2 linked regions of the Homo sapiens genome follow. The protein of the gene in region 1 purifies or fractionates together with the protein of each later gene. This does not show direct contact. Each region holds a gene or a part of one and is shown on either strand. Other genes may lie near its edges. The genes, in order: ACP7 and PDP2.

Evidence for each region.
Region 2: the proteins of ACP7 (region 1) and PDP2 purify together in Homo sapiens (affinity purification with mass spectrometry; one large-scale study listed by BioGRID and IntAct). This does not show direct contact.

The regions. Positions count from the first base shown.
Region 1 is NC_000019.10:39,097,663-39,101,476, reverse strand, and holds part of ACP7 (acid phosphatase type 7 isoform 1 precursor), read right to left. Parts: intron 3,020-3,814; coding exon 2,819-3,019; intron 2,518-2,818; coding exon 2,335-2,517; intron 1,251-2,334; coding exon 1,127-1,250; intron 898-1,126; coding exon 835-897; intron 739-834; coding exon 624-738; intron 529-623; coding exon 421-528; intron 328-420; coding exon 270-327; intron 190-269; coding exon 122-189; intron 12-121; coding exon 1-11.
Region 2 is NC_000016.10:66,883,215-66,887,028, reverse strand, and holds part of PDP2 ([Pyruvate dehydrogenase [acetyl-transferring]]-phosphatase 2, mitochondrial precursor), read right to left. Parts: intron 2,799-3,814; 5' UTR 2,745-2,798; coding exon 1,155-2,744; 3' UTR 1-1,154. UniProt on the Homo sapiens protein: Mitochondrial enzyme that catalyzes the dephosphorylation and concomitant reactivation of the alpha subunit of the E1 component of the pyruvate dehydrogenase complex (PDC), thereby stimulating the conversion of pyruvate into acetyl-CoA.

The sequences.
Region 1 (3,814 bases):
CCGTTAAATACCTGGGGAAGGGAACAACGTTGGGTGGCAGGCAGTCACTCGAGGCCATGCCTGGGCCTTCTGACCACCCTGACCCCAGCTGTGTGGGCGCTCAGCCCTTCACGTGCCTCACCTGGTAGTTGTAAATTGGCCACAGTCGTTCATACGAGTGCTCATGAGCCCACAGCTGCAGATCCACTCCTGAGATAGAGCAAGCGGGGATCAGACCTCTGAATTGGGGAGAGGTGGGGTGTGGGGCATGGGTCCTGAGGGTCGCTCACCATATTTGTAGAAAAGATCCTCCAACCCGTACAGCTTGCCTTGGAGGCCTTTGCGGACCTGGGCAGGGTGAATGAGCGGGTGAGGGTGACGCAGACTGACGCCCACCTGGCTTTCAGCATGTCCCCACTGTCTCCCAGGGAGGGACCTCACCTTGCTTTCATGTCGTGTGCAGTCGTCCAGATCTGCGTTGGAGCAGTACATGGGCCGGTGCCCCATAGTGATGATCCACGGCCGGGCTGCCCGGTTCTTATTGGCTTTCTAGGGAGAAGGGCCCAGGGTGAGGGGCTAGGAGTCAGGGGTGGAGGGGGAGGTGGGGCTGGCCAGGGGACTATAGGGGCCTCCACCCAGGTTACCTGGAGGTCGCTCTCCAGCCAGCGAAACTGCCTCTGTACCAAGTGGCGGCCATAATGGAGAAAGAAATAGACCTCGGTGGAGAAGGAGATGATGTGGGCGGGACCCAGATCCCAGCTGGAGGAGTCAAAGGGCAGGGGTCAGGGACCAGGGCTCCCCTGCATCTCCCATCCTTCAGGGGAGAGGGCCAGTCCCCCAGCACCCCCACATTACCTGTACCACAGGCCCTCATTATCCCCCGGCATGCTGAAGCGAGCCTTGTAGTTAGAGAAGTTGCTGGAATAAAGGAAGTACAAGGGATGGAGGTGAAGGACTGAATTTCATAGCCCTACTCCTATACCCCGCCACTGTCAGGCCCTGAGTCCAGCTTCCAGCCCACCCCCATCTCCTCTTGCTACCACAATTGAAATGTTGCAGCATGAGAGACTCAAGGGAGACACTAAGAAGAACGAGACCATTTCCATTGATCCAGCCCTCGCCCACCGCCACCACCCTCAGTCCTCACTAGCGTTCTTCATGATTCCCAGGGCATGTCATGTACGGCAGGCTGGCAGCCACGGGTTCAATGAGCCGCATGAACCTATCCCCAACACGGGCGTTGTCCTGATCCAGGTTGTAGGCAAAGTCTCCTGGGGGAGGGGGCGGAAGGAGGGTGAGGACCCAGGCCCAGCTCTGCTTTCACTGGAATTGAGAGAGCCAGGTATGGTGACTCACACCTGTTAATCCCAGCGCTTCGGGAGGCCAAGGCAAGAGTATCACTTGAGCCCAGGAATTCAAAACCAGCTTCCCAAAGTGCTGGAATTACAGGTGTGAGCCACTGTGCCGGGCCAAGATGGGCACTTTTTTTTTTTTTTTTTTTTTTTGAGACAGAGTCTCCCTCTGCTGCCCAGGCTGGACTGCAGTGGTGCCATCTTGGCTCACTGCAACCTCTGCCTCCTGGGTTCAAGCGGTTCTCCTGCCTCAGCCTCCCAAGCAGCTGGGATTACAGACACTTGCCACCACACCTGGCTAATTTTTGTAGTTTTAGTAGAGATGGAGTTTCACCATGTTGGCTGGGCTGGTCTCGAACTCCTGACCTCAAGTGATCCACCCACCTTGGCCTCACAAAGTGCTGGAATTACAGGCATGAGCCACTGCGCCTGGCCCAAGATGAGTATTATTATTATTATTCCCATTTCAGATGGGGAAACTGAGGCCCCAGGTCACACAGCTGGCTAGTGAAGATGTAGAAATAAAACCTAGGGAGCCTGATTCCAGAGTCTGCACTTTGAAGCACACAATCCCCAATCCCCATTACCCATCTAATTCCCTTCCCCCTCTTAAATAACAACAGCAGCAATAATAATAATAACCAGCACAAGGACACCGAAGTGCACCTGCACCCTGCGAGGCAAAGCGAACTAACGTAGTCATCACAACAGTCCTGCGAACTCGGAACCAGCTTTCTCTCTAATCAAAATATACGGGGGAAAACCCCTGCTCCTGGCAAGAGCGCCAGAGTTGGGATTTTAACCTAGGCAGGCTGGTTGGCCACAGACACCGTCTCCGTAGCCAGTCTCATCCCCTGTCCCTTCAGAGACACACTGGCCCCAGCCCTGTCCCCTCCACGGTCCTAGCACCGCCCCCGACCCGCGCGCCCCCGACCCGCGCGCCCCCCACCATCCCTGCGCGCGCCCCCCACCGTCCCTGCGCGCGCCCCTGCGGATGCCTCACCCACATGGAGAACGGCGTCATACATGCCCTGCTGGGTGTCCCTGCGCAGCCGGGGGACGGCCTTCGGGTTGTCAGCCCCCAGGTCTCCAAACACAGCCAGACGGGGACTCCAGTGGGCCCCATTCTTGAGGGCCCTGAAGCGGAACCGACGGCTCCAGCCCTGCGCACTGCCACAGCGATAAACTGAATGGGAGAGGAAAAGGTCGCAGTCAGCTGGGGCGCCCCGGGACCCTCCCTCCAACCCCATCCTTCCCCGACTGGTGGAGGGGAGGAGATGGGGGGACTGGTGGGGGCTGGCCCATGCCCCTTCGGTCTGCCTTCCCCGGCACCTTCCGTTTTCATCCTGGGGTCTCATACAACAGGCTTGCAGATAGGCAGTGGAGTTACCAGCCCAGCCTGAGCCACCGGCCAGTGGTAGCTTCTAGTCTGCATCCCACTCCTCTTCCCACTCCTCCTCAACAGCTCAGCCTGGGGCCCCTCTCACCATACTGAACCCCTGGCAGCAGCTTGCGAAGCGTGACTCGGTGTATGTAGAGCTTCCGCCGGAGAATGCCCCCGTCCACAAAGGGGACGAAGGTGCCCTGGGCGCGGAGGGGCAGGGGCCCCGACGGCTGCAACCCGAATTGCACTTCAGAGCGGGTTGGGACCCATGTGGTCCAAGTTACAGTCATGGAGCCTGGCTCACCTGGGGAGAAAGGGACAGAGGGTAGACCGGGAGTGAAGCCTGGGCAGGGTGGGAGGGATATGCAGAAAAAGTGAGGGGCGTTGACCACTGTTGAACAGTTAGTGGTTAAGGACACAGGTTCTGGAACTGCCCAAGTTCAATCCCAGCCCCGCCATTTCTTTTCTTTTCTTTTCTTTTCTTTTTTTTTTTTTTTTTTTTTTTTTTGAGTCAGGGTCTTACTCTGCCTCCTAGGCTGGAGTACAGTGGTGCAATCTCAGCTTACTGCAATCTCTGCCGCCTCGCAGGTTCAAGCGATTCTCCTGCCTCAGCCTCCCGAGTAGCTGGGATTACAAGCATGTGCCACCATGCCTGGCTAATTTTTGCATTTTTAGTAGAGATGTAGTTTTGCCATGTTGGCCAGGCTGGTCTTGAACTACTGACCTCAGGTGATCCACCCACCTTGGCCTCCCAAAGTTCTGGGATTACAGGCATGAGCCAGCTCTGCCATTTCTAAGCTGAGCTTTCCTGGGGCACATCACTTCACCTCTCTGAGCCTCAGTTTTCCTGTCTGTAAAATGGAAAAATAATAGTCTCTGCCCTATATGGTTGTTATGAGGCTTAGATGAATAAATATAAATAAAGCACGTGAAACAGTACCTAGTACACTTAGGGTTATATGCGGGAATGAGTATTATTATTAATATCATTATTTACTGTGTGCAGGTCTTGTGCCAACTATTGTACACACATGATATCATTTAAGGGTTGCCAGCTTGGGTGTCTGGAGGCCAAGACTGTAGACCCTGCCCTATCTCA
Region 2 (3,814 bases), on another chromosome or scaffold:
AACTGTTGTCCTTAAGCCTTTGTGTTTTCACCTCTCCAGATAGAGGTTGAATCTTAAGTCCACAATCCGCTAAATTAACCTGTCCTGTCTAAACGTCTATCACCACAACTACCACATGCAATCACATTTTCTCCTTTCCTGCAGCCATAGGAAGCAGGAACATGTGAAAGATTCTTTCAGACAATATTTTGCAGTTGGCAGGTGCAGGGTGAATGAGGGGTTCAGCATAGCAGAGGTAGAAGGATTGTGTGGAATTGACAGAAGAATGTTTGAGAGGTATAATCAGAAAGCTTAAATGCTGTGAATCAACCCCCAAAGGCTCAGCCCAGGAGGAAATTTTACTAATGCAGGAAAGGTCAGGAGTTAAGGCATAGACTAGTTACCTCCTAGCATGGCTCAAAGTTTCTGGAATGGGACTCAGTAGAGGGCACAAAAAGCTGCACCAGTAAGTTCAGCTGGTCCAGAGGCATAGATCCTATCAGCTGAAAACCAAAACAAGTCATTCCAAGCATGCTTACAGTAGGCGTGTTTGCAAGTTTAAGGATTCAGTTTTAAAATAAACGAAAACAGAACTAGAATGTAGTATTACAAAATTTCTCACAAGCATAATCACAAAAAAAAAAGTTAGGATATTGCATAGAAAAGGGTCCTGTAGTATGCTTTGTAAACCTAGACCTTAGTAATTTAAATAAAAGACAAACAAATAAAATATCTCTTCATAGTCTACAAGTCCATGATTGTGAATTCAGGAGAATTATCAAATTTGCAGATTTTTGTGGCAAGACCTAAGAAGCTCCTGAAGTTCTTTATTCTCAGAATCATGATTAAATTTACCCTTTGAAGGCTCAGGCTGACACAGTTTAACAACATCTTTATCAAATGACTGGGGCTACACAAGCCCAAGCCAATTCTATAGACTTTATGCTCTGTCCTCTCTGCATATAAGACTTAATCAGAACATACAGGGACATGAAATCACTGCTATTTCACTGTTTTTTAAAGCTAGGCTGTTTGTTTTTTTCCTCCTGTTAGTCTATTTAGCAAATTAAATCTGCCTGCGCTTTTAATAGTAAGGTTTGGATAGCTAGTTTAGGAGTAAGTGAAACATTTTAGAAGAGCATTTATGTTAACCTTGACAATAGGATGGGAGATTCTTAACCCCCCTTGTAATATGCACCGATTGATTCTGAGTTAAAATACACCACAGTGACAGTGATATCATCCCTGTACATCCTCGCCAAGTCCTCTGGCAATGTCAGCATCGCCGCCAGCCGCTCTGCCTCCATCTCCCCATACTCATTGTTCCCGATGGCATGTCTGATCAGCCGCGTGGCTGCATTTTGGTCAGCCTCGTGGAGCCCGCTGGCTTTCCTCTGCAGCAGCAGGCTCTGCATGAGCCCCAAGTTGGCGGGTCTCTGGGCCAGGTCTGTCTTGTGCCAATCTGCCTCAGCCAGGTGCCCCACCACCAGCCTTACCACGTCCTCATTGCTCAGCATGTCCCACAGGCCATCTGAGGCCAGCACAAGGAACTTATCCTGGGGCCTCAGCCTGTGGTATGTGACCTCAGGCTCAGCAGTCAGGTAGGGTGGAGTGTAGTAGTGTGGGGGTGTGAACTGGTAAATGTTGAGGGCCTCGGTATTGAAGCCCCTCTCCAGAATGCTGCGCTGCAACTCTTTACTCCACTTCAGCTGAACATCCCCAAAGGCCCTGCAGGGGATGAGGACGCCCAGTAGCCTGTCCTCCATGATGATCGTCCTGTCCTCTGACTCAGGGTGCTCCCTCTTTAGCCGGGACAGCTCGGCCTGGTTCCAGGCATTGTGGTCACGTGTAAGGGGCAGACAAGACCACATGCCATTGTCCTCTTGGACACCAAGGATGGCTCGGCAGTCACCAGCATTTGCCACGTGCAAGTGAATTCCATCAACATGGGCCATGCAAGCTGTTGCCCCAGAGAAAGCAACCTGGAGTGACAGGTTCCTTGTCACCTCATCTTCCAGGGGGGCCTGGATTTCCAGCGAGATGTCAGAATCCAGTCTCTGGAAGGAGTACATTAATGCTTCTTCAATGCTTAGTCCCATTTCCATGTGCAAATCAAGCAGTTCCTGCCAATAGACACGGAGGTGGTCAAGATGCACAGATGTGACATCCTTGTAGATACTGTCCCCTGGGTGCTTGAGCCAATGCAGGATGGGCAGCAAGGGTTTCATGCTTTCCATAGCTCCCTCCATGTGCTCCAGGGTCTGGTGGGACATCAGGGACACTGCCACATAGTAGAAGAGCCTCTCGCTCACTGCTTGGGCACATGCATGACCACCATGTCCATCGAAGATGCCAAACATCAGTCCATTGGTTTGCAGGCAGGAGGCTACACCTCGCCGGTCCTCCACTGGGGAATTGGCAGCCAGCTGGTTGCTCTCAAACCGCAACACTGAATTTGGGACTCTGCTTTCAAGGTCAAGAATCTTGTGGGTTGTCTCGCCAGCTCGAAGCACTTCATTTATCTGCTCAGGGCTGAGTTGCAAGTGAAAATCATCTTCCTCTGTTGATGTGTGTCTGTAGGCTTTGCACAGAGTAAAGCCACCACATGGGGAACTGTTTAGGGTGGGTGGCACCCGGGAAAAGAGCCTCCATTTTAATTTATTCCTATTTGAGACATACCTGGAGTATAAGCGTCTACCCCCTTGCAATGTGGCAATGCTGTTCCTTGTAGAATTTAAGATCCAGTAGGACACAGTACTTGACATTCTGAAACTATACCAGCAAATGTGTTCCTTCAGCAAAAAAGGATATTTTTAAACCTAAAAATTAAAAAGTTGAAGTTTCAAATTTAATTTCTTTTTTTTTTTTTTTTTTTTGAGACGTAGTCTCGCTCTGCCGCCCAGGCTGGAGTGCAGTGGTGTGATCTCTGCTCACTGCAAGCTCCGCCTCCCAGGTTCATGCCATTCTCCTACCTCAGACTCTGGAGTAGCTGGGACTACAGGCGCCCGCCACCACACCTGGCCAATTTTTTGTATGTTTAGTAGAGACAGGGTTTCACCATGTTAGCCAGGATGGTCTCGATCTCCTGACCTTGTGATCCACCTGCCTCGGCCTCCCAAAGTGCTGGGATTACAGGCGTGAGCCAAAGCACCCAGCCACAAATTTAATTTCTTAAAAATACTGACTTCTGAAAACATTTGCTAATATCCTGAACAAAAATGACTTAGAATAAACTATTTAAAATACACTAAACTCACTCTCACCAGCAGACTATAAGTGTTCATTTAAATATCTGCTTCGGGGGCCAGGCCTGGTGGCTCATGCCTGTAATCCTAGCACTTTGGGAGGCCAAGGTGGGTGGATAGCTTGAGCCCAGGAGTTCGAGACTAGCCTGGGCAACATGGTGAAACCCTGTCTCTCCAAAAAAATAAAAAAAATAAAAAAATTGCCAGGCATGGTGGTGTGTATCTATAGTCACAGCTACTTGGGAGGCTGAGGTAGGAGAATCATCTGAGCCTGGTAAGTTGAGGCTGCAGAAAGCAGTGATTGTGCCACTGCAGTCTAGCCTGGGCCTCACTAGAGAGGGAGTGAGACCCTGTCTCAAAGAAAACAAAAACAGGCCTGACGCGGTGGCTCACGCCTGTAATCCCAGCACTTTGGGAGGCCGAGGTGGGCTGATCACGAGTTCAGGAGATCGAGACCATCCTGGCTAACACAGTGAAACCCCGTCTCTACTAAAAATACAAAAATTTAGCTGGGTGCAGTGATGGGCGCCTGTAGTCCCAGCTACTCAGGAGGCTGAGGCAGGAGAATGGCGTGAACCCAGGAGGCAGAG